3 linked regions of the Homo sapiens genome follow. The protein of the gene in region 1 interacts with the protein of each later gene in a pairwise test. Each region holds a gene or a part of one and is shown on either strand. Other genes may lie near its edges.

Region 1 (9,872 bases):
CGCACAGAGCCTGACACATATGGGAACCTCAGTAAATATTTTCAGTGCTAATAGTAGTGGTAATAGCCTACTTCTGATCAAGAGGCCATGTGAATTCATTTTGAGAACTTACCACACCTCCACCAGGCACTAAACACCCAGCAGTGAAAGACAAAATATGAAAATTGACAAAATAAGAAAATTGAAATGACATAGTTGTACCCAGAAAACAAGATAAACATCTTGTGGACCAGAAACAACATAGAAACTCTACATAGTTAAGCGGGGGTGGAGGCAGGCAGAGGCAGGCCCCAAGGGCATTGGTGACTGGGTTTGAAGACATGCAGGGGCACCGGGACAGGAAGCCTAGCTTTGATCATCCTCTTCCATGCTGTGTTAGTTCGTTTTCACGCTGCTGACAAAGACATACCTGGGACTGGGCAATTTACAAAAGAAAGAGGTTTAACTGGACTTATAGTTACATGTGACTGGGGAAGCCTCACAATCATGGCGGAAGGCAAGGAGAAGCAAGTCACGTCTTAACATGGATTGCAGCAGGCAAAGAGAGAGCTTGTGCAGGGAACTCCCCTTTTTAAAACGGTCAGATTGGCTGGGTGCAGTGGCTCATGCCTGTAATCCCAGCACTTTGGGAGGCCGAGGTGGGCGGATCATCTGAGGTCAGGAGTTCAAGACCAGCCTGGCCAACATGGTGAAACCCTGTCTCTACTAAAAACAATACAAAATTAGCCGGGTGTGGTGGCGCATGCCTCTAATCCCAGCTACTTGGGAGGCTGAGGCAGGAGAATTGCTTGAACTCAGGAGGCGGAGGTTGCAGTGAGTCGAGATCGAGCCATTGCACTCCGGCCTGGGCAACAAGAGTGAAACTCAATCTCAAAAATAAAACAACAACAACAACAAAAAACAAATAACAAAAAATAAATAAATAAAAATTTTAAAAAATAAACCATCAGATCTTGTGAGACTTATTCACTATCACGAGAACAGCACAGGAAAGACCTGCCCCCATGATTCAATTATCTCCCACCAAGTCCCTCCCACAACATGTGGAAATTCAGGATGAGATTTGGGTGGGGGGCACAGCCAGGCCCCCAGGCCGGTGAGGGACACACAGTATCACATGCCTTTGTAGATTGTATAGTAATTATCATTTACATCAATAACCTCTTCACCCCAACCACAGGCAGAGAACTTTTCCAACACAGAAATTGAGTGGTCTTCATCTTTATGCTTTGCACTTCTCCTTGTGCCAAGTGTATGGTCTGTGTTCAAAATAAGAGAGAATTAAAGGAAAAGACTGGTGAAATTTGATAAACTCGCAAAGAATCAGATGGACCTAATATCTGCGTTTAAAACCCATCCTTGCTGCTCTTGAAGAGAGGTCTGGGAAATCCCTGCTGATCTAAATAGGTTGAGGGTTCCATCTCTGCTTTGTTTTGTATTAGCTATGTGACTAGGACCATCCATCAATGGCTTATTTGTTATCCCGAGAGTGAAACATGCACTGAATGTCTCATTTTTCACCTGGTCACTGTAACGCCATACACATAGCTGTTATTTCTGTACATTTCCACTCCATGTTCATATAGTAGAAATGCTGTTCCCTATACCTTTCTCCTTTCTAGGGAAATGGATAAACAAACAGATCTACGGGATCTTTAGAAATGCCTTGAAATAAAAGTTTAGAGTGATATCTTCCTTTGTCTCAAGATCAAAATGTTTTCATTTCCTTTGTTCATTTTTCTATTACAGACCTCACATTCCAATCAGCAAATTAGTTGTTTCAGAATCCTATGATACTTATATCAGTAGAAGTTTCCAAGTAACAAAAGAAATAATAAGTGAATGTAAAAGTAAAGGTAAGTGGTATTATTCTGAACTCCATCTGTACATACGTGATTATTTCTCTATAATGGTTAATAGGTTATTCAAGATGTTTCAACTTGCTTTGGCTAACCAAAGAAATGTATTTCCAGATTTTCTTCCAGATACTTTTACATTAAATTTGTAATATTCTCTGAGTTCCTAAAATGGTAGATATTCCAGGGGTTTATACCAGACTTAGTTACTATTCTTAATAACTTAAATTCTGCGTTATAGCTATTCTTCTTGCACCCTGTGAAAGAGATTCCCTCTTATAATTTCCAAAAGCTCTAGCATGCCACTGTTTTGCCTATAATTGATGCAGCGGCATGCACACCTACACACAGCACACCTACACAAACACATACACCTTCCCTGCTATCACCAACCAAGAGCAGTGTTGTATAAGGCTCAAGTGTGTTTGCTATTGAATTTTCTAAACACTGAGCTCAAATATTTAATATGTAAGACTGTTCACTATCAATTTTTTAGTGAAAAAGGCATATTGCAAAAAAAGTATGGACATTCCCTTCATCTCTTTTTTTAAGTTAAAATACTTATATTCAAACAGTAGGCAGCCATGAGCAACAGTATTATGAATGATTCCCACCTTCCAGTTTTCATTGATTAGCCACTCACTACCATAAAGGTACACAACATGTTCTATCAACCAGGAAGTCTCAAGTGCTCATAGTTCTATAGTGGGAACACTTAAAACTATGTTAGAAGGAGTTGCACAGACAGCCCTATGGACACACAACAGTCCTGTATCTTGATTGTCATGGTGTTACAAAAAGCTACACATATGATAGAATTGCATGAACTGTATCGTCACATATGCACAAACGACTTCTTGCACACCTGCTAAAATCTGAATACGCTGTGTGTATTGTACCAGCGTCCATTTCCTGGGTTTGATACTGTACCATAGTTATGTAAGATGTTACCATTGGAGGGGGATGGGATGAAGGGTTCATGGGATCTTGTCGGTATGTATGTATATGTATGTAACCCTCCCATAAATCCATAATTATTATTATTATTTTTGAGACAGGGTCTTGCTCCTGACACTCAGGCTGGAGCGCAGTGATGCAATCATGGCTCACTATAGCCTCAATCTCCTGGGCTCAAGTGATCCTCCCACATCAGCCTCCCAAGTAGCTGGGACTGCAGGCACAGGCCACCACACCCAGCTAATTTTTTAAAAATTTTCTATAGGGACAGGGTCTCACTATGTTGCTCAGGCTGGTCTCAAACTCCTGAACTCAAGTGGTCCTCCCTCCTCGTTCTCTCAAAATTACTGGGATTACAGGGATGAGCCACCACACCCGGCCCCATAAATCTGTAACTATTTTAAGATAAATGTTTTCTTTAAAAAGATTAAGCTGCCTTATCAGTAACAAAGCACTTTCAAAATATTGCTTAGGCAAATTGTCTTCTTGAGTGTGTTTGCTCCCCTGCAGAGCATTTAGTTAGCTTCCAGTATTTGCAAAGTTTCCATGTCTTTATAGAAACAGTCTTCCCATACCTTGCCATTTTCCCCCAGGAAATAACATCCTGATTGTGGCCCACGCATCTTCCCTTGAAGCGTGTACCTGCCAACTTCAGGGCCTGTCACCTCAGAACTCCAAGGACTTCGTACAAATGGTCCGAAAGGTAATTCATTCTCGTACTTTGGGGTCCGTGATGGCTAGTAGTTTGAAGTCAGTACAGTGACTGGCTGATTACCAAGTTCTTTGAAGCATGTGTTTATGCTGAGCTGGGAATATTCATTTATTGCTTCACTCAACCAAGATGTATTGAGTGATACTCTGTGCAGGGCACTTTATTAAGCCTTGTGTTAGAAAAACAATGTATGAGAGCTAGTTCTAGCTTCTAAGAGCTAAAATGTAGGAAGCAGCTAGGAATTATAAGCAAATTGTCTGGATTTCCCTGAGGGACCTTCTCTGAATTTCCCTGAGGGAACTTGGGTTGGATCAATAGAGGTCAGTCCAAAAGACAGCATCTGAAAGCTTAACTCAAACACAGGTCCTTGAAGGTAGGCCGAGGCATGCAGCAGTTTCAAATGAGGAGGCTAAAAGGCAAAGCCAGGAACAAGACAGCAAGACAGAAAACCCATGAGGCTGACCCACACATCTGGAGTCTTCCTTTCTGTGCCTGTGGGAGAGGTTTTCTGGTCAGCTGCCTCCCACACACTTCCCTTCAGGCAAATTACATACTTCCTTTCTCTGCCGCCAGAGAACCTGGTTCAAACTCAATTGCAATCTTTTTTCACATTTTTGAAAAGTTTATTTATGCATCTGTCCTCATTTGTAAGTGCTGGAAGACAGAGAATTTTGTCTTGTTTGTAAATGCAGCTCTGGACACAGACAAAAATAAGTTTTAAAATTGCTGTGACAACTGAAGTGAGGGAGAGCACAGCTTCAGCTTTGAATGTTGCAGAGACTCGTAAGGAGAAAAAAAAAACGGGTGAAACAAATTTTTTCAAATTGAAAAATATTTTCCATTGGGTCCAAGTATAATTTCAGAAATGTTTGAGCTGACTTTTTCTTTTCTTTTTTCTTTTTTTTTTGAGACAGAGCCTTGCTCTGTCACCCAGGCTAGAGCACAGTGGCGTAATCTCGGTTCACTTTAACCTCTGCCTCCTGGATTCAAGCGATTCTCCTGATTCAGCCTCCCACGTAGCTGGGATTACAGGCACATGCCACCACGCCCAGCTAATTTTTTGTATTTTTAGTATAGATGAGGTTTGCCATGTTGGCCAGGCTGGTCTCGAACTCTTGACCTCAAGTGACCCGCCCGCCTCGGCCTCCCAAAGTACTGGGATTACAGGCGTGAGCCACTGTGCCCGGCCTTGAGCTGCCTTTTTACCTGGACTTGCAATTGGGAATTAACTCCTGGCATTGTAGCCTTATGTATTTTGGTCCTCTTTTTCTGCCACCCAATTAAGCAGCAATCTATGAACAATGACTTAATTACTTTAGGGGAGGTCACCATTTAATGGATCCTTCTGATGAATCCTCTTGCAATGTAAATACTCTTCTAAGTTACCAGTTTTACCCATTTTATTTTATTTATCGATTTTTGAAGGGAATGCATTTCTACAAAGCCACTATCCATTTCTGACTGCAATTCTCTAGGGCCACATGAATATCTTTGTATTTAGGTAAAAGTTAAAGCATTAAACCTATCTCCTAATATCCCCTTTCTTTACGACTCTTACTTCAGATCCCATATCTGGGATTTTGTTCCTGTGAAGAATTAGGAGAAACTGGAATATGGCAGCTGACAGATCCACCAATCCTTCCTCTTACCCATGGACCAACTGGGGGCTTCAACTGGAGAGAGACCTTGCTTCAAGAATAAACCACACCAGTGAACAAGAAGGAAAGGCCTTTTGGAGTGTGTCTTTCTGTGTGTTTAAAAACAGTGGGAAAATCCACACCACACTCTAAGTGGACAGCTCAGAATAATTTAGCATATTTCCTTTCACACTTAAAGTTCTTAAGATGAGACTGTGTAAATGAGAGAAAGACTTGATTCAGAGGAAAAAAATGTGTTCTCTCTGGACTCTTGCCTAGCTCACAAGGCTTTGGAGAATTGTCTTCCTAAATCGGGGCACCTGCTACAGAAGAGAATGTTTCGTTCCCTCTGGGTATGCACAGCTAAGGGGCCTCATTTCTCCCAGAGGGAGCTGCTGGCCCGCTCTAAGGGGTGCAAGAGGAAGGAGTGTGCCCAGACCAGCTGGGGGAGCATTGAAAGGACAGCTTGGGGATGGAATTTTTTTTTTTTTATCTCCATTTTCCAGTTAGGTAGAGCCAAGCTGAGGAATCCTTTTAAGATTATTAGAAAACATGCCCTGAAGAGAGTTGTTCTTAGGTTACACATGAAATCCTACCGTCACTAGCCCCCATACACCAGTGTTGCTGGCTGAAGATACCCGCTTAAGGATGCTAACATTTACCCTGGTACTGCCACATTTTCTCTAGAGCAGCTGGCCCTTCTTGCTACAGCCCTATCCCCCCTCCTTGCTTCTGTGAAATGGGGAGACAAAGCACTTTTGCTCTCCAAAGCACTTTTGGATACTCAGGAGGAAAGATAAGATACATGTTTGAAGTATTCAATCATAGGAGCAAAGAACTTGCAAAATATGAAGTGACTTGGAATTAACCATGTTGTAGCCTAACGTGCTACTGCATTTCTAAATCATCAATATTTGCTTGTCTTTGCCCCTAGACTCTAGACTATGTTAACTAGTTAAGGATGTTACATTTTGAAAGGATGTATGTTAGATATATTATTTGCAGCAAGAAGTTCATTCTGTGCAATATGGACATGTTTGCAAACCATACCAAGGGTCAGGTTGTTGTACACTTACAGTACGTGTCAACCATAATGGAACATCCACAAATGCATCAATTATACCAGGGATGTATAGTAAGTCAGGGAACTAATATAAATGATGACAGTCATGGCTGCACTGCTACTTGTGCTGTCGTTTTGTTTGTTTTTCTATGATAATTTAAAATACATAGGTAGGGCTACTGAGGAAATTTGGAGAGCCACATTCTGTGGTTTCTCATTATACTTACTTCCTGCATTTAGAGGGAGTTTATTTAAAAGAAATAAATGACAATCAAACCAAATCATCAGTTATCAATGTCTGTTTAATTGTGTGACTATCTGACTGTTGATGGCCACAGATGATGGTCTCCTATGGTATAGTTCACTCTGTAGAAGATGTATGCAAAGTGAAATGCCAGCCCTTTAAAGAGACATTAGTTAGTGTAAAATGGATCTTTACATGTTGCAGTAACATTGACTATGTTTCAAAACTCAGATGCATAAAACGTAAGGTATATAAAAATACATCTATGCTTGCGTTTGAAACTACAACTTGATAACCCCTAGAAAGAAGAGGACATGAAAGGATGCTGGCTATATATGTTAATGAGCAAAAGGATTATAGTTGTTTTGTTTTGTTTTTAGAGACAGGGTCTCACTATAATGCTTAGACTGGTCTTGAACTCCTGGGCTCAAGCGATCCTCCTGCCCCTGTCTCCCAAAGTGCTAGGATTACAGGTGTGAGCCACCACACCTGGCCCATAGTTGTATTTTTTTTAGGTCACTTAGAAAAATATGTCATGTATTTTACATTTTGAGAAACAAATCAATCATGGTTTCTTCTAGCGTTGCGCAAACACTGACCCAGCTTCTGGGTATGGAAATAACCCTGTGATGATGTGTTAATATAAAATGTTGGGAGGGAATATTCCCAATAAAGGTCTTAAGAGAAAAGTCACATTACAAGTAATGTAATGGCTCTACCATTCATTCTTCTGGTATTTGTAATGAAGTGAATCCACTGTTTAATCAGATCCATAATCTTTAACAGATTCACCACAAATTTTCATGGGCGTTGAGTGCTCAGAATAATGCTTGAACACCTCACCTTGAAACTGTAGCAGTGTGTTCTGGGCAGTATCTGTAATGTATGAAATAGAGTCTGGAATAGGTTATCCACTCCATCTTCTAGGTTATCTTAGTTGTATGACGAACTGATAAATCTGTCTGACTGGGCTACAATCCATTGTTCTTAGTCCAATATGGACACTGCCTTAGGCAATGGTCTATATAAGCAAAAGGAGATAGAGATCTGAAATAATTTTCCGAATAATTCAGGTGGAAAACAAGAAAGATTGTATTTCTCTGCTTTCATTTCAATTTCATTATTTCAAATTGCTTGTCAAAATGGCCCAAAAGATCTGAATTCACATTAAGTTCCCCTTGCACACTTACCTATTTAAAAAACTAAACTTGCACTGCAACTGAGAAATTATTTGTAAATCATGTGGCATCTATGTATAATAAAAGAAAGAGACAACTATATTACTCAATTTCATATACATCCAAAAAGTATAGGCTAATATATATAACCTGAAGTTGCAGCTGGTTCTTTTTGATCTGAAGCTGATGCTTATTAAAACAAATGATGTATGGGGAGAGGAGAAGGAAGGGCAAGGAAGGAATTGACAGATAAGAAGCAAATGGTTTCTTGTACAGAGGAATTTTGTTTTAATGTAGAAAGTTATTTGAAATAAACTAGGTGAAATGAAATTAACTAAAGGTTTTAATCTGGGATTGAAAGCCTGAAAGCATTTCCTGCTTCTACAAGTGTGCCACATCAATCCGGTAATGCCCCAGTGTTATTCACAGACAGAACTTTGTTTCCTGTGATTTTAAAATACCGCGTCTGTTCCTCCATGGACCAGAGTAATTGGCACATTTTAATGCATAAGCTGGGGGTTTCATTTTCCCAGGCTCTCTTCACCATCACTGCATTGGTAGCTAGGAGCTTATTGCTTCACCCCAGTATGGAGTTCAGATTACAGTGTTTTCCATTACATTTAGATTCATAGAATCTGAATGGCTGATTAAATGGCCATCTGATGGCTGAAAGAGGGGCGTATTTTTCACTCTGTAGTGAAAGGCTTGGAGGAGTTTCTACTTTTTATTTTAATTATACTTTAACCAAAGAATTATTTTAAAGTAACCTTATATTTAAAAGATGATTTTGCAAAAAATAAAAAATAAAAAATATGCCTTCTGGAGTGATGTCTGTTTGGTAAATCATTGTTGATAATTTCCTTGTTAGTGGTATTTGGAATGCATATAGATTGTCTTGTCATTGTGCTTAACATTACCATAAGTGTGTCTTTTCCACTCAACTAGCTGTATTCGTATTAAAATGAAGTCTCTTATTTCAATTACCTAGTGTTGTTGGGAACTAATTGAACAGCTACAGTAAAAGAAGTTCCTATCTCATTGCCTTTGTGGAAAGGCTTCCCTATGTGGTAAAAGAAAGGCATTCCTCCGTAACCTAGGCACTCTGCAAGTCCAGTGTTTAATTTCAAAGCAGTGATGAATTGCTCTTTTGAAATTACTCTAAGTAATCCATGTGTTAGAATACAGATGAACCTCCGTTTGATTTCACAGCCTTCAGCACAGGCAACTGTTACTGAGTCTGCACGAACTTAGATAATGAGGTGCAGGGTTATTTGCATTTAAATTGCAATCCAGCACACGTGTGAGAAAGAAGAGGCACTAGTCTAAAAGGCTGCATTGCGGGGAGAGATGAGACAGGCAGAGGAGGGTGGGGTAAAGAGCGATTTAACATCTATTTAGGTTAATGTTCACTTTACAAAGGTGATGGGGGATATTTTGTTAGGTGATAGCAGAAGCTTTTCATTTTTAAACATAGAATTAAAATTGGATTTGCTTCTCTTTAATACTTCAACATATTGAATTTCCCTAGGAAAGTGACTAGCTATAATGAAAATTCAAGCGAAAAGGGAAAAAGATTGTAAATGCAGATGAAATAACTTCATTTTTAAGTACAAATAATAGTAGGATTGGTGTATGTAGGTTTAAAATTATAGTGATGACTAGTCGAACTTAATATACAATCAGTTCTTGCAAATACTTTACACTTAGCTGCCATTACACAACAAATTGGAATTTTCCAGCTGTTCAACTATCATGGACTCTGTACAGGATAGATGTGTATAATGGAAAATATGTACTGCTTCTTTCTTTGATTGCCACTCAAGATGGAAACACCATGCCAAGGCATTTTGGTTATACACAGATCATTCTAAACCTGTTATTTTGGAGAGGTGTATTGGTTTCTTTCTCATTTATAAGGCTATTGTATTTTTTTTTGTATGTGATTCAGGTGTATTTATTTGAAGACTATTTGTAGTTATAGGAAAACCACACCTACCTGTATTGCCAAATTCTTTGTAAACTCTCCGTGGCACTTGTGCTTTCCTGGCTGAGAGCTCTCCCCTGTTGATACAGCTATGGCACCATTGTAATTACAGATGCACCTTTCAGGAGCATCTCCATTAAATGGTTCATAGATGATTTAATAAAAAGAAACTTCTCAGTTGATCCAGAGCAATGTCATTTTAAATTCTGAGTGGTCTCTTCCTATCATGTTTTCAGATGTT
Region 2 (10,863 bases), on another chromosome or scaffold:
TGGGCAGCCAGGGTACGTCCTCCCTAGGCGGCCACCCGGGGAGGCCCCTCCTGCCTGCTTGCTGCCCCACCCTGGGGTGCCTGCTGTGAGGCCTTACTGCCCTGTGACTGGTCCCTGGTCCTGCCCACCCCCCCTTAATCCCCTCCCGGTGGCTTCAGCTTGCAGGGCTCTTTTCAGCTGCACCTTCATCCCCAAATCCTGGAGCTTGGCCCAGCAGAGGGTACCTGGTCAGCACCCCTAGAGGCCACCCAGGCTGGGGTCCCCGTGGGGCACTCACCCCTGTGAGCACATGGACGCCAGCCTGCTCACCTGAATTAGAGATGGACTTGACAGACTGGAAGCTTGACGTGGAGAGGCTGTCTGCAGGAGAGCGCACAGTGTCGGCGCTACCGCCCGCAAGACGCCCATGCTTGCCTCCTGGCCTGTGTGTCCGTGAGGAGCCCTCCTTCAGCCTGGCAGGGCTGGGTCCTCCCGGCTCTACCCACACTCCGTTGATGCAGACCCAGCGAGCGCCCAAGGGAGCAGAGGCCCTGGAAAGGTGGTTTCCTGAGGGGCCATCTGGAAAGCAGGAGGGCTTGGGACACATGGAACAGCAGGTCCCGAGGGAGAGCATGGCCTCTTCCCGTGTCCTGTCAGCGTCCCCAGCACTGCAGGGCTGGGGCTGCCGACTTGGGCCACACTTTGCCCAGAACAGCTCACTGGAGTTGCCACAGCGGCTAGGGAAGGGCCCTCCCTCAACCCCATTCTCCATGTCTCTCTGGGAAGGGAGAGCCCTAGGCACTGCCCCAGCTACGATGTTCCCAGGCTGGCTCCATCCACCAGTCAGATGTCCTCCTGATGTCAGCCCCAGCCCCAAAGATAACGGGAAGTGAGCTCGAGACCACAACCCAGAATCCTGGGCTGGGTGGGGGCCGCTGTCAGGATGGGGAAGTGCCTTGGACAAGTGGCAAGGAAACAGGACTCTGCTTCCTCCCTTTGTCCCCATGGTTGCTGCCCAGATGGCAGGAAGGGATCCCTGGATGGAGTGTGTCCAGAGCCCCTGGGCCCCCAGCATGTCAGGACTCAGAGCCATAGGGCTGGAGATCCTGGGCCTGGCCACAGCAGCAATCTGAGGCAAAGATCTAGCAGGGCAGGGGCTGTCCCAGGGGTTCCTTCCCATTTCAGCTCTACTTGGAGGAGGGAGGTCTGGGGAGCACCCTGTGCCCACCTCCCCACTGCAATGACCTCAGGCCCTGGGCTTCCTGAGAGCAGCACGTGCTGTGCTTGGCTGCGTAACATCATCCAGCCACGGCTAGAGGTAGCGGCATCTGTCCAGGTCCCCCAGAACCTGTCCCCACTGGGTTGGCATACAGGGGCCAGTGCAGCCAGGTGGGCAAGGACAGTCTGGAGGGGCTCCCCTGGGTGGCAAGAGCATCCCATCAGGAACTGAAGGGCCCAGTTCTCACCTTTCTTCTGTGATGTCTGATTCATTATGAGCTTGTAACGGAGATCTGAAAGCAAGCACACGCTCTCCTCAGCACTTGTGAAACCACAGCCATTCTGAGAGAAGAAGCCTGGCCTGTCCTCTCCTGGCTGCTGAGCCCGAAAGTCCTGCCCCCCCACTGGCTGATTGGGCCCTGCCCCATGGATCCCGCTCTCCACCATGCCTTTGTCGTGGGTGTCAGGCCAGGAGTGGCCCCTGCCTGTTCCCTAGGCAGAGCCCACCTGGCATATCAGCCTCATCCATCTGAGATGACTGGAGGGCGTCCACACTGCCAGGCAGAACCTGGGCTTTAGGGGTACAGAGGTGAACTCTGGAATCCCTGGCTATGGCGGTGTCATGATCCCGTGGGCATCAGGGACTGGGGGGAGGCTCAAGAAGATATGAGGAACGGGGCGTCCTGAGGCTCAAGAAGACATGGGGAAGCGGGGTCCTGACAAAACAGACGCCTGGTGATGGGATACTCGGCACTCAGGTAAGGCAGCAGCAGGGAACGGGGCGGGAGAGGAGGCCGCGGGCACTGGTGCCCTTGCTGGAGCCCTCCTGAAGCAAGAGCGAGGAGCGGAGCCACATCCCACATCCTGGCGGGCCCTCCTCCTGCTCGGGGCAGGAGGGGTGGGGGAGGAGGGAGGGAGAAAGGGGGGCGTGGGGGTGAGGAGCAGCTAAGGGTGCAGTTGGGAAGGCCCCGCCGGAGGACAGCATGGGCACAGGCGAAGCGGGGACGGGGTGGGGGGCGGGGGAATGCCTGCTCCTGATCCGATGTGTTTAGCTGGAAGAAATTCACTGAGCTGCGCACTCGCACTTGGGCACGTTTCCCTGCATAAAGTTTTTGTTTGTTTGTTTTTGTTTTTTTTGAGACGGAGTCTCGCTCTGTCACCGAGGCTGGAGTGCAGTGGCAAGATCTCGGCTCACTGCAAGCTCCGCCTCCCGGGTTCACGCCATTCTCCTGCCTCAGCCTCCCGAGTAGCTGGGACTACAGACGCCCACCACCACACCCAGCTAACTTTTTGTATTTTTAGTAGAGACGGGGTTTCACCGTGTTAGCCAGGATGGTCTCGATCTCCTGACCTCGCGATCCGCCCGTCTCGGTCTCCCAAAGTGCTGGAATTACAGGCGTGAGCCGCCGCGCCCGGGCCCCTCTATAAAGTTTTTAACAGAGGTGTGTCTGACCCTGCTTGGAGAGGAGAGGACTGGCGGAGTCAGCATCTGAAATGCTGCTGCCCTAGGAGACAGGCAGACAGGTTCGGCACTGCCCGGGGGCCACGCGGGTCTCCCTCTGGGAGGAGGGGACAGCTCAGCGTGGCAGGGCGGGCTTACCGTCCTGTGTTCCCCCTGAGCCCAGGCGTGTGCTGGAGTTGATGGCTGTGTTTCTGTGCTGCGGGAGCGGCAGTGTTGAGTGTGCCTGGGGAGGCAGGGCCGGCCTAGGGCCCCGCGCCGGCTCACCCTTGTTTTCCCGCTTCAGATGCTCGATCTCCTCATGGAGCTTGGCCAGCATCTCCGAGTGCTGCTGCTGCAGGAACTGTAGGCTCTTCTCCAGGTCCAGGTTCCGTTTCTGCGGGTCGCTCTGCCTGAGCTGCGGGCTCTGCGGCCTCAAGGACTGGACGCCCACAGAGGGGCGCTGGCGCCGGCGCCGAGAGCCCGGGGTCGGCGAGCTGGGGGGCCGCGTCCCAGCCGCCACCCCCGCACCGCTCATATCGCCATCGCCAGGTACTCTCCCGCTGCCACTGCACCCCGGCTCAGTGGCCAGGCCGCCCTAGCCTGGCGCCCCGTCACCATGGAAACCGGGCGACGGAGGGCGCCAGGCGTTTGGCGGGGGCGGGGCCTGTCGCTGGCTCTTCCTGGGTGAGTAGTGATTTACAAGGCATCCAGGGCTGGGCGCCGGGGCTCACGCCTGTAATCCCCGAACTTTGGGAGGCCGAGGCGGACGGATCACTTGAGGTCAGGAGTTCCTGACCAGCCTGACCAACATGGCGAAACCCCGACTCTACTAAAAATACAAAATTTAGCCGGGCGTAGTGGCGGGAGCCAGTAATCCCAGCTACTCCGGAGGCTAAGGCAGGAGAATAGCTTGAACCGGGAGGCAGAGGTTGCAGTGAGCCGAGATCGCACCGCTGCACTCCAACCTGGGCGACAGAGACTCTATCTAAAATAATAATAATAATAATAATAATAATAATAATAATAATAAAAGGCATCCTTTCCAGCCTGGATGGAAAGTGAGCCCCTGTCTCTATAAAAATTAAAAGAAAAAAAACCCGGGCATGGTGGCTTGCGCCTGTAGTCCCAACTGCTCGGGAGGCTGAGGTGGGAGGATTGCTGGAACCCCGGAGGTCGAGGCTGCAGTGAGCTATGATGGCACCACTGAACTCCAGCCTAAGTGACAGAGTGAGATGCTGCCTAAAAATAAGAGGCCGGGCGCAGTGGTTCACACCTGTAATCCCAGCTACTCCGGAGGCTGAGGCAGGAGAATCACTTGAACCCAGGAGGTGGAGGTTGCAGTGAGCCAAGATCGCGCCATTGCACTCCAGCCTGGGCGACAGGGTGGGATTCTGTCTCAAAAAAAAAAAAAATAATAAATAAATAAATAAATTTAAAAATAATAAAAATAAAAAGTCTTTTTTTTTTTTACAAGGCCTGCCCTCAAAAAAAAAAAAAATCACAGCCAGGCCAATCATAATTTTGCCAGACACCAACAAACCTGGAGGAAGGGAACATAGCTAACCCCAGCCTGCTCTGGCTCTCCTTCCCCACATCTTACTGCCACATCAGCGGGGCTCCTGTATAATAACAGGGGATACAAGTGAAAGAACTGCTCATCTCAGAGCTTATTCGAGAAATCTCTAGGAAACCGTAAAGACAACAGGGAGACAAAAACTAAGACACTAGAGGAGGTTTAAGCCTCTGACACCTCCAGTTAACAAACAGCACACATGGCACAACCCCTAACCAGACCAACATAAAACTTCACACAGAAAGTCCATTTACTGGTTGAGCATGACCAGCCCTCAACAAAAACTTGCAAGGCATAATAAAAAACAACACAGTTCGAAGACACAGCAAGCATCAGAGCCACACTTAAATATGGCAGAGATGTTGGAATTATCAGACCAAGAAATGGAATACGACTATGATTAATATGCTAAGGGCTCTAATGGAAAAAGTGGACAACATGAGATTACAGACTGATAATGGGAACAGAGAGGTAGACGTTCTAAGAAATAATCTAAAGAAAATGTGAAGGCCAGGCAGGGTGGCTCATGTCTGTAATCCCAGCACTTTGGGAGGCTGAGTTGGGCAGATCATTTGAGGTCAGGAGCTCAAGACCAGCCTGGCCAACATGGTGATACCCCATCTCTACTAAAAAATACAAAAATTAGCTAGTGTGGTGGCATGCACCTGTAATTCCAGCTACTTGGGAAGCTAAGGTGGGAGGATTGCTTGAATCCAGGAGGTGGAGGTTGCAGTGAGCCGAGATCATGCCACTGCCCTCAAGCCTGGGCAACAGAGTAAGACTCCATCTCAAAAAAAAAAAAAAGAAGAAGAAAAGAAAAGAAAATGTGAGAAGTTGGCCAGGCACAGTGGCTTACACCGCTAATCCCAACACTTTGGGAGGCCGAGGTGGGTGAATCACTTGAGGTCAGGAGTTCAAGACCAGCCTGGGCAACATGGTGAAAACCCATCTCTACTAAAAATACAAAAATTATTGGGAGGCCGAGGCGGGCGGATCATGAGGTCAGGAGATCGAGACCATCCTGGCTAACACGGTAAAACCCCATCTCTACTAAAATACAAAAAATTAGCCAGGCATGGTGGTGGGCGCCTGTGGTCCCAGCTACTCGGGAAGCTGAGGTAGAAGAATGGCGTGAACCCGGGAGGCGGAGCTTGCAGTGAGCCAAGATCATGCCACTGCACTCCAGCCTGGGCGACAGAACAAGACTCCATCTCAAAAAAAAAAAAAGAAAAAAGAAAGGCAGGCATGGTGGTGCATGTCTGTAATCCCAGCTACTCAGGAGGCCGAGGCCAAAGAATTGCTTGAACCCAGGAGGTGAAGTTTCCAGCAAGCTGAGATCCTGCCACTGCACTCCATCCCGAGCAACAGAGTGAGACTCCATCTCAAAAAACTAAAAGAAAATGTAAGAAGTCAAAAACACAACAGAAATGAAAACTCAGGTGCATGGCTGATGCCTGTAATCCCAGCACTTTGAGAGGCCAAAGCAGGAGCATCTCTTGAGCCCAAGAGTTAGAGACCAGCCTGGGCAATATAGCCAGACCCTGACTCCACAAAAAACTAAAAAGTTTGCCTGCATGGTGGTGCACACCTGCAGTCCCAGCTACTGAGAAGGCTGAGATGCAGCGAGCCGTGATTGCACCACTGCACTCCAGCTTGGGCAACACAGAGAGACCCTGTTTCAAAAAAAGAAGGAAAAAGATATAGGAAATTTGGATCTAAAAAAAGGGAAGTGCATTAGAGAAGGAATAAAGTAAAATAAAATATAATCTTTATTATTATTTTTAATAGATGACAGGTTGTTCAAAAAAATTATGGCAACATGTATTTAGTAATTATGGTTTATGGATAGCTGGAATGAATGGTAGCAATATTATTGCTGGGAGGGAGGATATCCTGAGTGGAGAGAAATTCATCCAGGCAGGAGTGCAGTGGCGCGATTATAGCTCACTTGCAGCCTGGAACTCCTGGGCTCAAGCCATCCTCCTGCCTCAGCTTCCCTAGTAACTGGGATTACAGGCACACACCACGCCTGGCTAATTTTTTTTTTTTTTTTTGTCTTGCTATGTTGCCCAGATTGGTCTCAAACCCCTGGGCTGAGGCAATCTTCCTCCCTCAGCCTCCAGAAGTGTTGAAATTACAGGTATGAGCCACTGTGCCTGGTATATGGTTGCTTTTGAATGTCCTAGTCCTAAACATCTGGTTCCCAAGAAGGAGAAAAGAAAAATGAAGGCAGGAGGAGGTGCTGATCCATAAAAACCTCCTGGAAGGTGTGTACCCAGGGAGGCAGTGAGGGTTGAGGAGGGACGTTGCAAACATAGCAGTGGAGATTGCAGCAGTGGCTGCCTGCCTCTTTGTCTGCATTTTCACAATCAACAGCAGCCATCATCAATCAGAGCACAGATCCCCAGTATTTGGAGGATGGGGCTCTTATTGCCCGCTCTGGTTCCTGCAAGCTATAGGGAAGCTACTCCAGAAATGCATGCATGGCTGCTTGCACCACCAATTTAAATGCCACTTTCTTCTGAAAACACCCTTACAGACCTGCCAGGAAATAATGTGTAACCAGATATGAGTGCATCCGGTGGCCCAGACAAGCTGACATATAGAATTAACCATCACAAGTCCACCCCTTGTCAACCTGGCACCCATACACATCTCCTTAAACCATACGCACTCTCCAAATAAACACAATAACCCAGTGTTATTGTGTTAGCAGTGGAAGGTGTCCGAGTTAATAGTGTTAGCAGTGGAAGGTGTCCAAGTCACTGGCAGTGAATCCGGATGGGTCTTCAGCAACCACAATTCTTGGCTCCTCAGAAGAAGGAATTCGACTGAGGGGCATAAGGCAGAAAAAGAGACCGAAGCAAGTTTCAGAGCAGGAGTGGAAGTGTATTTTAAAAGGCTTTAGAACAGGAAAGAAAGGAAAGTACGCTTGGAAGAGACCTAAGTGGGCACATGAAAGTCAAGTGTGGTGTTTAACCTTGATCCTAGGACTTTCTAGACTGGCCCCTTTCCCATGATCCTTCCCTTAGGGTGGGCTGCCCACATGTACAGTACCCTCCTTACCCTTGGGAGTTCCTAAACACATGCAGTGTGTTTAGGAAACTGTATGCATGCCCATCTGAGGTTTTTGGGTGGGGTGCCCCCCGAAGGTCATACTCCACCACTTTGTCTCTTAATGCACATGCCTGGGAAGTTGATTCTCCCTGGAATCTGCATTCAATTAACACTTTAGTGAAATAGGTGTGGCCCATCAGGAAATGGCCTGTCCCTGGCGCCAGCTGCCAATTTATCACTTTTTTTATTTATTTATTTTTTGAGAAGGAGTCTCTTGTCACCCAGGCTGGAGTACAGTGGTACGATCTCGGCTTACTGCAACCTCTACATCCCAGGTTCAAGCGATCTTCTTGCCTCAGCCTCCCAAGTAACTGAGATTAGAGGCATGCGCCACCACACTAGCTAATTTTTGTATTTTCAGTAGAGATGGGATTTCAGCATGTTGGCCAGGCTGGTCTCAAACTCCTGACGTCAAGTGATCTTCCTGCCTCAGCCTCCTAAAGTGCTGGGATTACAGGCATGAGCCACTGCGCCTGGCCAAAAGTAGGAATTCTTGACTGGGAAATAATTTGATATATTTTCGCACCTTGTGACTTGAGAAAATTATGCTAGGAATTCTGGTTTTGGGAGTCAAGGGAAGCTAGCTTAATTTTTACAGTGAAGGCTACATAAGAGTCCGCTCTCCAGTGTGGTGGCTCACACCTGTAACCCTAGCACTTCAGGATGCGGAGGCGGTCGGATCACTTGAGCCTAGGAGTTCAAGACCAGCCTGGCAACACAGTGAGACCCCGTCTCTACAAAGAAATTTAAAAATTAGCAGGGTGCGGTGGCGCATGCCTGTAGTCCTGGCTACTTGGGATGCTGAGGCGGAAGGATTGCTTAAGCCCAGGAGTTAAGAGGCTGCAGTGAGCTGTCATGGTGCAGTGCACTCCAGCCTGGGCAATATAGCAAGACCTTGTCTCAAAACAGAGAGTTCTCTCTCATTTATATTGGAAATGTCAGGGTTATTGGTGAGAGCTGGCCTTTAGGGGATCTAACTTGCTCTTGGATGTCCAAGGGGAAAGGTATAGATTTCTCCCGACTGCACAGGGCCTCTGCTTGTGAGTTGCTTGCACAAGATGATCAGAATCTGACTTACCTTGGATCACGGGGGCGCTGGTATATCCTAGCGGTAGATCATGGAAGGGAGTGGGCCACGAATGGGATCCAGGGAACGGGATTGTCTCGGGGCAAGGAGGACGATGCGGAGGTGCGGGGGCAGGGGTGGTGTCAGGACAGGCTGAAGCTGCGCTGCCAGAGTCTCTGGGCCACGTGGTCAGAAAAGCATCGGATTTGGCCTGTTAGCAGGGGAGTGTGGCCCAATGGCAAAAAGTCAAGGGCATCCTAGGAGCTGAGGAGGCGGTGGCAGTGGCAGTTAGGGCAAACCACTCTGGAAGCATCCAGGGGTGGAGACAAGAATCTGCAGGAGCTCCTGCCTCCAGCCTGGCCTCCCTCCTCCTTGTGCCCCAGACAGAACTGCTTCCCCTGAGTTGCTCCAACTCGTCCTTCCCCGGAAGTCCCTCACAAGTGCCTCCTGGCCGGGCCCCCCCAACTGCATTTTGCTTCTGCTCTCATCCCAGCAGTCCCATTTTCTCTACAGTGAGAGTTCTTGGCAAAATTTAAATCCCATTTTATTGGCGAGGTCCCTACCCCCCACCTGGAAGTGGCTGGAACCCAGCTGCCCACTGCTGCCCTCGCTCCCCAGGGAGAAGCCACTGAGCACCAGCTGGCTTTGTGGCCATCGCTGTCCAGGTCCCAGCCACCAAGACCCTGACCCCTCACTCAGCTTTGCTGTTCTTGGTTCTCAATGCATTTTTGTCTGCCCTCCGCTCCTGGCCAGACAGTTCAGCCCCCAGCAACTCCCGCAATCCTCAGAGCTTCTGGAAGCCATAGACTTGGCAGCACATGTTCCCGGTGGTCAGCTTTTCTTTGAGAACAGGGTCTCACTCTGTCACCCAGGCTGGAGTATAGTGGCGTGATGAAGGCTCACTACAGCCTTGACCTCCTGGACCCTGATGATCCTCCAAACTCAGCATCCCAAGTAGCTGGGACCACACATGTGAACCGCCATGCCTAACTTTTTGAATCTTTTGTAAAGGCAGGGCAAAGTCTACTGTGCCTCTGAGAGAGGAAAGCATAGGAAGCCAGAGGTCCAGGCCTGTGGACACTAGCGGGAGGGGCCGACAGGGTGCCCAACAGTTGTTTCTGCAGCCCCCGTGTGCTCAGGGACTCTGTACAGGTGAACCTCCTAGAGACTGAGCCCAGGTGCCAGAAGACTCAGAAGCAAGGACATGTTTATTCAGATCCATGGTCGTTACAAGCTTCATTTTTGGTCACAGGCCCTAAAATGCCATTATGCTCAGTTTACATCAAAATACAAAGCCCAACATTTACAATTTCAAAAACATTAAAGCAAACCCCCAAAACCCCACACCGAAAACAAAGGCTTGGTTTGGAAATCACCACTGAGATGCTGTTCTCCCTCGCATGTCGCCTGTGGGGTGAATGAAGGTGAAGACCCCGTGCTGGTTTCTGTCAGAGAATCTGTAGTTGTATATTTTGAATACTTAAGTACCACTGAACGGTTGCCATGTCTTTGAGCACTTGATGTTACTGAAGTGACAATGCTTCTGACCATCTTTGGCTGCAGAGCAGAAACTGGCAGAATCCGACCCCATCGACCCAGCAGTGTCCCCAACGCCTGAGGACCAGCACCCATCTGTGACAAGGCACAGGGGTCCGCGATGTTGGCCACTGCTTTGGGTGATGTGCTCAATGGCTTGGGGTCTGCGGTGAAGCCCCTGGGCTCTGGGAGGGTCTTAGGCTCCTGAAACATGGAATTCTACGGCCCAGTCTTGGAACAGCTGGGAGAACATGAAGAACGCCCCTCACAGTGAAGAATCAGGACAGCCACTCTCTGGTTTTCTCACAACTCTAGAAACTTTGATTCTTTCCTGGAGTGGAGACTTAAGCCACTGTCCTGGTCCCACACAGAGAGAGGAAGCGCCACAACCCACTCTGCCAACCTCAAGGCCAGCCAGTGGGGAGGCCAGGCCCAGGTGGCTGTTGGCAGGCTGGCTCCCAAGCTTGGTGCAGCAGAGTAGCCAAATGGGCAGTGGAAAAAAGGCCCCGAGAGCTGGCTTGGCCGTGAGTCCTTGGCGGAGGGAGGGAAAGGCCGCCGCTGAGCTCTGCGCTGTCACAGAGCGTAGCTGTTGAGCCCTGGCAGCTACTCCTTTGCTGGGGCCCACCTGCCTTCCTTTCTTGGTTGCGTTTCCTCCAGATGCCTCTGCGGCTGCAGGAACCCCGCTCCAGAAGCCCGAGGATGACCGTGTTCCCTCCTGGAGGGGCTTCCCAGGTCCTCTCAGCCCAAGGGTGGGGCTGTGTGGCAAATCCCTCCAGCCTGCTCTGAAGGCAGCTGACACCTTCAGGGCTGGTGCAGCTTCCCCCGCTCGGTCAGCAGTGTCATGGCAGAGGCGTAGAGGACATAGCCCAGGGTGAGCAGCAGCGTGCATGGGAGGGGCCCGACGCAGAACAGAGAGGCCACGAAGAAGGCCAG
Region 3 (9,955 bases), on another chromosome or scaffold:
GAGGTCACCATCAGGGAAGAAACTGAGGGAGAAAGGAAATGGGGTTTCTTTTTTAAAAAATAATTTTATAAAAAATTATAATACCCATGAGGCTGGCAATGAGTGTCTGTGGCTTTTCCAGGTGCATGGTGCAAGCTGTAAGTGGATCTACCATTCTGTGGTCTGGAGGATGGTGGCTCTCTTCTCACAGCTCTACTAGGCATTGCCCCAGTGGGGACTCTGTGTGGGACTCCCACCCTACATTTCCCATCCACACTGCCCTAGCAGAGGTTCTCCATGAGGGCCCCACCCCTGCAGCCAACTGCAGCAAACTTCTGCCTGGACATCCAGGCATTTTCATACATCCTCTGAAATCTAGATGGCAGTTCCCAAAGCTCAATTCTTGACTTCTATCCACCCACAGGCTCAACACCATGTGTAAGCTGCCAAGGCTTGGGGCTTGCACCCTCTGAAGCCACAGCCCAAGCTGTACCTTGGCCCCTTTCAGCCATGGCTGAAGTGGCTAGGACACAGAGCACCAAGTCCCTAGGCTGCACAGAGCAGAGGTCCCTGGGCCCAGCCCAGGAAACCATTTTTTCCTCCTAGGCCTCTGAGTCTGTGATGGGAGGGGCTGTCACCAAGGTCTCTGACATGCCCTGCAGATATTTACCCCACTGTCTTGGTGATAAACATTTATCTCCTTGTTACTTATGCAAATTTCTGCAGCAGGCTTGAATTTCTCCCCAGATAATGGGTTTTTATTTTCTATTGCATTGTTAGGCTGCAAATTTTCCAAGCTTTTATGATCTGCTTCGCTTTTAAACATAAGTTCCAATTCCAAACCATATCTTTGTGAATACATAAAACTGAATGCTTTTAGCAGCACCAAAATCACATCTTGAATGCTTTGCTGCTTAGTAATTTCTTCCACCAGATACCCTAAAACATCTCTCTCAAGTTCAAAGTTCCACAGATCTCTAAGGCAGGGGCAAAATGTCACCAGTCTCTTTGCTAAAACATAGCAAGAGTCACCTTTATTCCAGTTCCCAACAAGTTCCTCATCTCCATCTGAGACCATCACAACCAGGACTTCATTGTCCATATCACTACCAGCATTTTGGTCAAAACCATTCAACAAGTCTCTAGGAAGCTCCAAACTTTTCCACATTTTTCTGTCTTCTTCTGAGCCCTTCAAACTGTTCCAACATCTGCCTGTTACCCAGTTCCAAAGTTGCTTCCACATTTTCAGGTATCTTTACTGTAACATCCCACTCTACTGGTACCAACTTACTGTATTAGTCCATTCTTATTCTGCTAATAAAGACATTACTGAGACTGGGTAATTTACAAATGAAAGAGATTTAATTGACTCACTGTTCTACATGGCTGGGGAGGCCACACAATAATGGTAGAATGTTAAAGAGGAGCAAAGTCACATCTTACATGGTGCCAGGGAAAAAGAGAGCTTGTGTAGGGAACTCCCCTTTATAAAGCCATTGGATCTCATGAGACTTATTCACTACCATGAGAACAGCATGGGAAAGCCTGTACCCATGATTCAATTACCTCCCACAGGGGTCCCTCCCATGACATGTGGAATTATGGGAGCTACAATTCAAGATGAGATTTGGGTGGGGAAACAGCCAAACCGTATCAGCCTTGTTGCAGCAGTTAGTGACTGAAATTGAAAGGGAAACTGTTCTTCAAAGACAAATTCCCGAGAACACTGAGGAGGAAGGAAATATCTGTGTTAGTAGAGGTGATTTAACCAGGTAGCTAAGGGCTCCTGGAATATTAGATATTTATAGGGACAAAGAAACCAGCTAATCCCAGAACAATGATTCCCTGGGTCCAGAACCACCTGTCCCCTCTTATCCCCTCCTACCTACTAAACTGGGCAGAGGCAGAGAGGTGATGGCAGTAATTAACCCTTCCCAGTAGTGGGGGGAGGTGCGCTGGTCCTCAGGCTCCATGGCTTCCCCCATAGTGAGTGCACACATCCTTCAGCTCAGGGCAGGCTTAGATCCAGCCTTGGGCCAACATCTCCCTGCCACTTATTAGCCCACCCATCTGAAAGCAGGGGATTTGAGATTTAAAAAAATGGGATTATAAGGTCAGTGATTTCCAGACCTTGGCACTTCACAAACCAGTAAAATCTCAAACAAAATGTGTGTGTGTGTGGGGGGGGGGGGTGGGGGGGGGGATAATATCAAAAAAAGGGCAAAATTTTGTTATGCAAGGTTGTTCAGAAAGAGTTAAGATGAAATTAAGATGGCAGATTCTGGTGCCAGGCAGCCTGGGTTGGAATCCTGGTGCCAATGCTAGATGCATGGTCTTAGGCAAGTCAGTGAATTTCTCTGTATCTCAGTTTCCTCATCTGTAAAATAAGGATGCAACGGTACCTACCTCTTTGGGGTTGTTATAATAATTAAAGAACTATACATAAACTGACACAAGAGATCACATATTGCAAGATTCAATTGACATAACATATACAGGAAAGGCAAATTTACAGAAAGGAGATTAAGGAGAGGGAACAGCATTCAACTTCAAATGAGGGATCTTACTGGGGGATGAAAATGTTCTAAAACAAATTTATGGTGATGGTTGCACCTCTTTGTAAAATTACTAAAAGACATTGAATTGTACATTTGAAATGGGTGAATTTTATAATACATAAAATAAACCTTGATAAAATTGTTTTAAAAGAATACATATAGCACTTAAACTATACCTGGCACCTAGTAAGTATTCAAGTGTAGTAAACACTTACCATCATTTCATGGAAGCCAAAAAAAAAAAAAGCCATGTTATTAGTTTGGTGCAAAAGTAATTGCGATTTTTGCCATTACTTTCAATAACATCACCAAAGTAAGGACCAGAATAAAGCACAAAAATCCCCTACTTGCTGTGAGTCGGGGAGGGTTCACATGTTATCACGTTTGGGGATGGGGAGGGGTATCAGAGTCTTGGAACTACTCTGACTCAGCCCTACCTTCCAGGGCATTTTTCAAACCAAGCCATTTGCATCCCTACCGAAGGTGGTCTGCTTATTTAAGGGGCAGCCCACGGAAGTGTCTCCTCTCTCTGCCTGCCCCGCTGAATGGTGGAATAATTGTCCAGTCAAAAAGGACCTGGATATGCCCAGCGGGCCTCAGGCTGCAGCCCCCTAACTGGGAAAGTTAGGAGAGGCGGGTCTCAGCCCCACCCAAGGGCATCTGTGCCAACAGACTTACTCAAGGTGAAAGGAGCCACCTCTGCTCAGGAAGGTGTGAAGCAGGGCCCTGCAGCCACCGGTCTCGGGAGAGAGGTGGTCTCCTGCTAGGTAGGAGGGGAGGAGTTGGGATCCAATCTGGTTTGTTGTTCTTTTCATCTTATTTTTTCACCCCTTTGGTGAGGGGCTACATTTGCCAACATCCCTTTTAGGATAACCCTTTTAGATGGGTCCAAAGAAAGACTTTTTTTTTTTTTTTTTTTTTTTTTTACAATTAGCAAAGTCCCTCAAACTTCCCCCTTTCCTAATAGCTGAGAAAAGAGGGATAGACCAATTGGAAAGAAAAATGGAGAAGCAAGGAAATGAATGCAACTCTCGCCCAGGCAACCCATCCCAGGCCCAGTAAAAGAGTGGCTTCGGGAGCTGTGGCGAAGGGATCAGCAGACCCAACAGTGCCCGGAGAAGGGGCCTTGGAGGTAGGCGATGGCTGACGGTTGGCGGCGGCTGAAGGCAATAAGTGCTCCTCGCAGCCTGGCAATGGGCACCTGCAGCCGGCGCTCCGCTCCCTGCTGTGAGAGCTCTGCTCCCTCCAGTCGGGACGCCCCGTTGGGCCGGCCTAATCTCGAAGCCTGGCTCCCACCACCCTGCGCCCCGGGATCAGCAGCCAAGCGCTACCCTCATACATAAGTTCCCGCGAGCCACGTCCGCAATTCAGGTGTGCACCAGGTCACTGAAGGGTGTGTGCGCCGCCAGGAGCCTCCATTGGCTGTGGGCTTTGACGAGCTGTTTAATCATTACCTCATCAAGTCCCACGGATCCTAACTTAATGAGCAAATCAGAAGCTCAGCCCGAAACGCTGTGAAGCTCTCAGAATTTAGCCCTGGCAACTGCAAGACCACCAGGGGGATCTCGGGGCCGGGCACTCCCCAAAGCAGGCTGCGCGCACAACGGGGAGCGGGATGGCAGCGCACAGAGGCAAAGTTTCCTCAGAGCATAGAGGCAAACTCCGCCAGGCTCGCTCTCTCTGACCGGGGGTCCCCGGTAAGCACACTCACCTCCGATCCAGCCCGCCGCAAAGTCTTCCAGCTGGAAGCTTCCCATGGCCGGCGCTCGGTCTCGCCCTCCCGGAGCCGGGGCAGTGCCCACTTAGAGTCAGTGGGGCATGGCCCGCGGGCGCGAGCGCGCCGCAAGACCGAAGTCGGAGTCTCGAGCACGCCGCAGGTCCTACTCCAAACCCAGTCCCCCAGTCACCGGCTGCGCGGGCTGCCGCGCTCACCTCTCCAAGTGCCGGAGGGCGGCTGACATCACGCCCCCAGTGGACCTTAAAGGCACAGCACTCTGGGTGGATAAGGGTGCGCTCCGCGCGGCTCATCCCAGACACAAAGAGGCAAGGGTCATCAAGTGAAATTCTCTTAGTCCTCCCTTCTCCGGGTTATCCTCTTCCTTGCCAACTTCAGAGCCTCAGCGCCTTTGAACTGAAAGTGCCAGCCGCCCATCCAGAGACGGCAATGCGCGTATCTCCCTGTACTGTGCTGTGCTGACAATGCTGATTCCAATCAGCTGTGGACTCTCTCCCATCCCAACTCTGGGCAGTGATGCCTTTTTGTTCATCTCAGCCATGTCCCACTCAGTACCCCGTGCCTAGAGCAGGCACCTGGTGGTTCAGGGTCATGTCTAACTTTCAGCTACAGCTCTCTAGGGGCCCAGCTCCCTGCCTGGCCCTGGCTCACCCTACACTGTCCGCCCTGGGCCAACAGAAGGCAGAGGTGGTGCTCTGTACCTCAAACTCCCTCTCTGTAGGCAGACCCTACATTCAGCCAGGCCCCAGGCCAGGGGTCCGTGCTCACTGGAGAAGTGGCCTGCTGTGCGGAGAGGCTTTTGATTACAATGAGAGTGTCTTTCCTCCCTTCCTAAGAAGACTCGAAGCCCCCCAGCGTTCTGCTAGTTTCCAGCAGGGACTCAGCTGTGGGTCTCAGCCAAGACACCCCAAGGTTGACAAGAATGGTGAAGGGTATGGTCAGGAGGAAGGGGCCTCTGCTGGGCCTGCTCTTGTCCCACTGGGCATATTCATGTCACGTCATCCAGGTTAATATGAAGCGACAGCCAGCCAGACCTCCTTCTTCCAAAGCAAGACAGAGCCTGACCACCGAAGCTTGATCCTACAAAGGCCTGTCCACTGAGGAGTGGGGACTTGGAGGTGAAGGGACCTTCCTGCAGCATCACTCCCTCCCCTGCCCCGGCACACAGAGAGTGGACCTGTATCGGGAGAGGACAGCCCGGGATGGAGTCGCCGGCCTGGCTAGGGAAGTATTGCAAAGTTCCAGGGAGGAGTGGAAGCATCACACCCCATCCCGGCACCTCAACTTCCTGCTGCTTATGGTGACCCACTCAGTCTTGAGGCTTCAGAGTTGCCATCAGCATCAACCCCAAGCTGTGCCCTGTCATGCCCGGGATATATGCCTAGGGCTGCTATGAGAAATGCAGGTCTCTGAAGAGTGGCCTTTTACTGAGTTCACCATTGGAATGCATCCACAAGTGGAAAGCCTGACAATTCTCAAAACCCACTCCTCTGGAAGACCACCTAAGGGGTGCCAGGCAGTTTGTCATCCCCTCAGTCCTGTGTCAGCACCAATTGAGGAGGTCTTACGTTGGCAGGCAGTGTCCCTGGCAGCCCAGGATGGCCTCCCAGGCCCAGAAAGCTGCTGCTTGAACTACTAACGAGCTGGAGCAGAGCAGGAGTGGGTTGCTTTCCAAAATGAATTACTGTGCTCCATTCCCATATGCATGCCACAAACCTGCCCATGGGGCGCATCACCCAGGGAAGTGAGGGGAGGACCCTAGGTTTACCAGCAACCATGGCCAGGCCTGGAGAATCCCAGACCACAGGGCTATGAGCCCAGGCAGAATGCTGGCTCTGTGGCCAGGATCCAGGCCATCCCTTCTTCCTGGCCTTCGCACTTCAGAGCACCATTTGCAGTGTGCTGCCATTCACATTTGCATTCTACACTCGGGAGAGGGCAGGGCAGCTACTGGCCATTACAGAGAGAAAGAAACTCCACAGAGATCCACTCCCTGCATGACTAGGGCCAGAAAGCAACCCCATTTTCTTTCTCCCTCAGTTCCTTCCCCAATGATGACCTCTCAGAGCACTTTCCTCAGTAGCAGGACATGCAGATGGGCTATGCTGATAGCATTTGTTAACTAGTGGCCCACTCCCCATTTCTTATTTACCCTTTCAGGCCACAGCAATTTCCTGAGCATCAGTCTGTGCTAGTGCCTTGCTTTGGGGAAAGTCTCTGTTTGAGAGGAGACAATCCATCTGAGATGCTACACAGAGGTGGCTGTAAGAGCACTGGAGAGGGAGTCCATCGTTCTACAGGAAGCAATCAGGGAAGGCTCTCCAAACTTGGAGTCTCCTGGCTGCACCTTTAGTCTACACAGCCCCACAGCTCCCACCTCCCCAACCACTCTCTCAGGCAAGCCAACAATCCCCTCCCCATGTCCACCTGCCACACTCGGGCAGCAAAGGCCTGGGTCAGCTGTCCATGCCTGACCTGCTGCAGTGAAGGCGCTGCCCATGCCGCCTGCTCCCCTCTGCTTCCAGATTCCTGCCCTCACCCAGCTTTCCTCCTGCTTCTCCAGCTCTTCTCATCTTCTTCCCTGGTGCCATGGCCCCTTCTCATGCTTAGGTGTGAATTCCTCAGGGCCCCATCTGGACCCTCACCCACCCGTACCTCCCATCTCTCAGCGTATAACCCCCACACCTTGCTTCAGAGTCCAGACATCCCTCTACTCAACACCTCCACCTGGGTGGCTCGGGTCATCTTAGCGCATCCCTCGATGAACTCTCTCTTCCTCCGCCAGTGCCTCTTCAACTTAGAGAAACACACCTCCACCCAGTGGCCACCCAAAACAGAACCTTGGATGCCATCCTCCATTTCTCTCTCCCAAGGTCTTATCCCACCAGCCGCAAAGTCCTGAGTGTCCATCCCCTCAATGACACCCAGCCCTCATTGCTGTCTCCGAATGTGGCTCAGCCCAGCCCTGTGCCACTGCCCTGCCTGGATCACAGTGGACACGGGTTCCTGGGTCCCTCTGCCCCTGTCCTACTGCCCCAGTGAGCTTCTGAAACTTTGAATCTGCTCAGTTTAGTGAACTTTGATGACTTTCTGTGATCTTGAGCATAAATTCCAATTCCCCAGTGTGTTGTGTGTAGCTCAGTAGGACTGGGTCTGGCTGCTTTTCCACTTTGCACCTCAATGTCTCACATTCTGTGCATGTGTGTGACTGCGCACATGCTATTCCCTTGTGGGGAACACCCTCTCCCTCCTCCCCTGGCTAATCCCTGCCCCCTTCTTCTTTAAGACTCAGTTCAGCTGTCACCTCCTGACAGGCCTTTCTTGAAGGCCTTCCTCATCACCCTATGCCACATGGTATCTTCTAGATCTCATCTGTGTTTCCTGAATATTCTGAGCATATCTGTATCTCTGCTGTCAGACTCAGTGGTTGATTGTCTTCCCATCCAGACTGTGAGCCCACTGAGAAGAGGGTACTGCCTCATTCTGCACTGGACCTGCAGAGCCTGGCGCAGGCCTGATGGGCAGTCAGTCACTGCTTAGTCCGCTGGGCCTTAAATGAGGAGACATGGGGAAAAGTCTGAAGGTCCTGCTGGTGGCTGGCAGACAAGGAGGGTGTCTGGATACAAGACAGAGCTGAAGAGGTGGTCACATCATTCCCAGGTGTGAGGACTCCCCCTGGCCTTTCCTGGAGCATCACAGAAGCCCGGCTTCTTTCAGGCCCTCAAAGGTACCAGCCACATTTCCCCCACAGAGCTTTTGCACTGATCACTCCCTCCACCTGCAGCTCCCTCTCCCTGCCCTCCTCATAGCCGACTCCTACCTCCTTCAGATCTATACCAAAGCATCTTCTGCATGAGGAGGCCTCCCCAGGCCCCTCACAGGAGGTCACGACCTGGTTGCCCTCTCTCAAGGCACCCCTGCTTCTTTTTCCAACTCTCACCATGCCGCTCAGTCCTTGTGCAATGCTTGGTTGCTCCAGGAAGATAGATAGGACCCGTCTGACCTATCTGCCACCGTGACATTTTCGGGCTCTGCCACAGAGCAGGCAGACAGCAATTACTCAGGACCGAGTTCAAAGGATTAATGAAACCGGACCACGGGCTTGTGCTGTCTTTCTTCTTTGAGTGTTTGCCCCAGCTGCATCATTCCTGCACTGGCCTCAGACAACGGGAGCTCTGAGCTCCCTCCTTGACTCTGATGGGAAGGAAAAGGAGCACACGATTTTCGAGCTTCTCATTGGGAGCAGGATTTCTTCCTTTGTTGATGGCACTTTGGGAAAGTATGTGCAGAGCATGTGCAGACTGAATCTGGCCCATCACCTGTTCAGCTTGAGGCTGGCAGTCAAGAAGCAGAGGTAAGTGGCTGTGAAGTGAGGGGGTGAAGCAGCTGGCGGGAAAGCTGGGCTGCCTGGGCTCTGGTCCTAGTGCTGCTGCTGCCTCTCTGGGCATCTTGGGAAAGTCCAGGCCTTAATTCTTCCTCTATTTTTTGGAAGGTAAGGACGATCTCCTCTTAGGTGGTGTCTGCAGAAGTCTGAAATTCTTGGCCACGGGGATATCAGCTGCGGAGGTCTCATCAAGATGCGCCAGGAGAGGGCGCTGCTGCGCAGCGCTTGAGGCTCTCGGGCGGAAAAGACAAGCGTGGCTGCTCATTCTGGATAGTTTCCTGGCCCGGTTTGCCTGGCACTGGCTGGCAGACAGCCACACTCAGTATATGTGTGGGCCGTGGAGGAGATGCTGGCCCAGGAGGCTCAGAGGGGAGTCTGAGGTGCCAGAGCAAACCTCGGAGAAGCTTGATGAGAACCCATCTAAGGTGTTTGAGTACTGTGTGCTTGGATGGGAGGCGACACCCCAATCTCTGTACCTGTGTAGATCTATCGAAGCCTTGAATGTCCCAGGCTTTCTTCCACCTCAGGGCTCCGAGCTGGCCCAGTGCTGCATGCTCCGTTTACACCATCTTGTTGAATTCTCTGACGCAAGTTCTCCTTGGGTAGGTGAGAAGAATGAGGTCCAGAGAGGTCAAGCAGTTTCTCTAAAGCCACACAGCAGTCAGTGGAGGATGATGAAGTCACACCTGCTGTTTGACTCCAGGGTCCATGCTATTAAAAAAAGTGCTGCCTCCTAGCCAAGACTCGGGAAGTAGAAGTGACTTTCCCAAAGACCCTTGCCCCCACCCCCACCCCTCTGCATAAATGCCCTAACTTTTCTGCCTCAGTTTCTCCACTATCAGTGTGATGGTACTAACACTGTCCAACTGTGCCATATTCATAGGACTCCTGCAACAGTTTAATCAGGGGGAAAACATCCCTTCCCCAATACCATCCCAGTGCCCTGGGCTGCCCTCTATCCTTTCTTTCCTGACAAGGTCCTGTGGGTCCACAGAAGTCTGAAATTCTGGGCCGCGGCGATATCAGCTTGAAAATCATATGTGCTTCTTTCCATCAGAGTCAACCTGCGGGTTGAGGCTGGCTCTGCGGACATCTGAGAATAGGAAATGCTGCTGTCCGCCTGACTGAAGGCCAGGCAGGTCAGTGGACCAGGCAGCCCAGGTTGGAGAGGTTTGGAATCAAGGGGTTTCTGTAGGAGTGTAGGAGGAGACCCTGCTGCGTGCTGCTGTCAAGGTCCCATCTGAAAGCCTGGCTGAGCACCTGCTATATGCTAAACTCCCTGGGACTCAGAGGAGTTTG

What was found.
Region 2: the proteins of UBASH3B (region 1) and CCDC74B interact in binary tests that used the Homo sapiens proteins (3 or more experiments, as listed by UniProt).
Region 3: the proteins of UBASH3B (region 1) and SLC25A48 interact in binary tests that used the Homo sapiens proteins (3 or more experiments, as listed by UniProt).

What each region holds. Positions count from the first base shown.
Region 1 is NC_000011.10:122,804,661-122,814,532, forward strand, and holds the end of UBASH3B (ubiquitin-associated and SH3 domain-containing protein B), read left to right. Parts: intron 1-1,749; coding exon 1,750-1,856; intron 1,857-3,406; coding exon 3,407-3,516; intron 3,517-5,088; coding exon 5,089-5,226; 3' UTR 5,227-9,813; downstream 9,814-9,872. UniProt on the Homo sapiens protein: Interferes with CBL-mediated down-regulation and degradation of receptor-type tyrosine kinases. Promotes accumulation of activated target receptors, such as T-cell receptors and EGFR, on the cell surface.
Region 2 is NC_000002.12:130,141,824-130,152,686, forward strand, and holds the start of CCDC74B (coiled-coil domain-containing protein 74B), read right to left. Parts: upstream 3,290-10,863; 5' UTR 3,174-3,289; coding exon 2,924-3,173; coding exon of another isoform or gene 2,798-2,923; intron 2,652-2,797; exon of another isoform or gene 2,517-2,651; intron 1,491-2,516; coding exon 1,446-1,490; intron 1,243-1,445; exon of another isoform or gene 1,160-1,242; coding exon of another isoform or gene 361-1,159; coding exon 310-360; intron 1-309. Other genes in the region: SMPD4 (sphingomyelin phosphodiesterase 4), read right to left, coding at 10,732-10,863.
Region 3 is NC_000005.10:135,829,187-135,839,141, reverse strand, and holds the start of SLC25A48 (solute carrier family 25 member 48), read right to left. Parts: upstream 4,480-9,955; 5' UTR 4,295-4,479; coding exon 4,249-4,294; intron 4,101-4,248; exon of another isoform or gene 3,877-4,100; intron 1-3,876.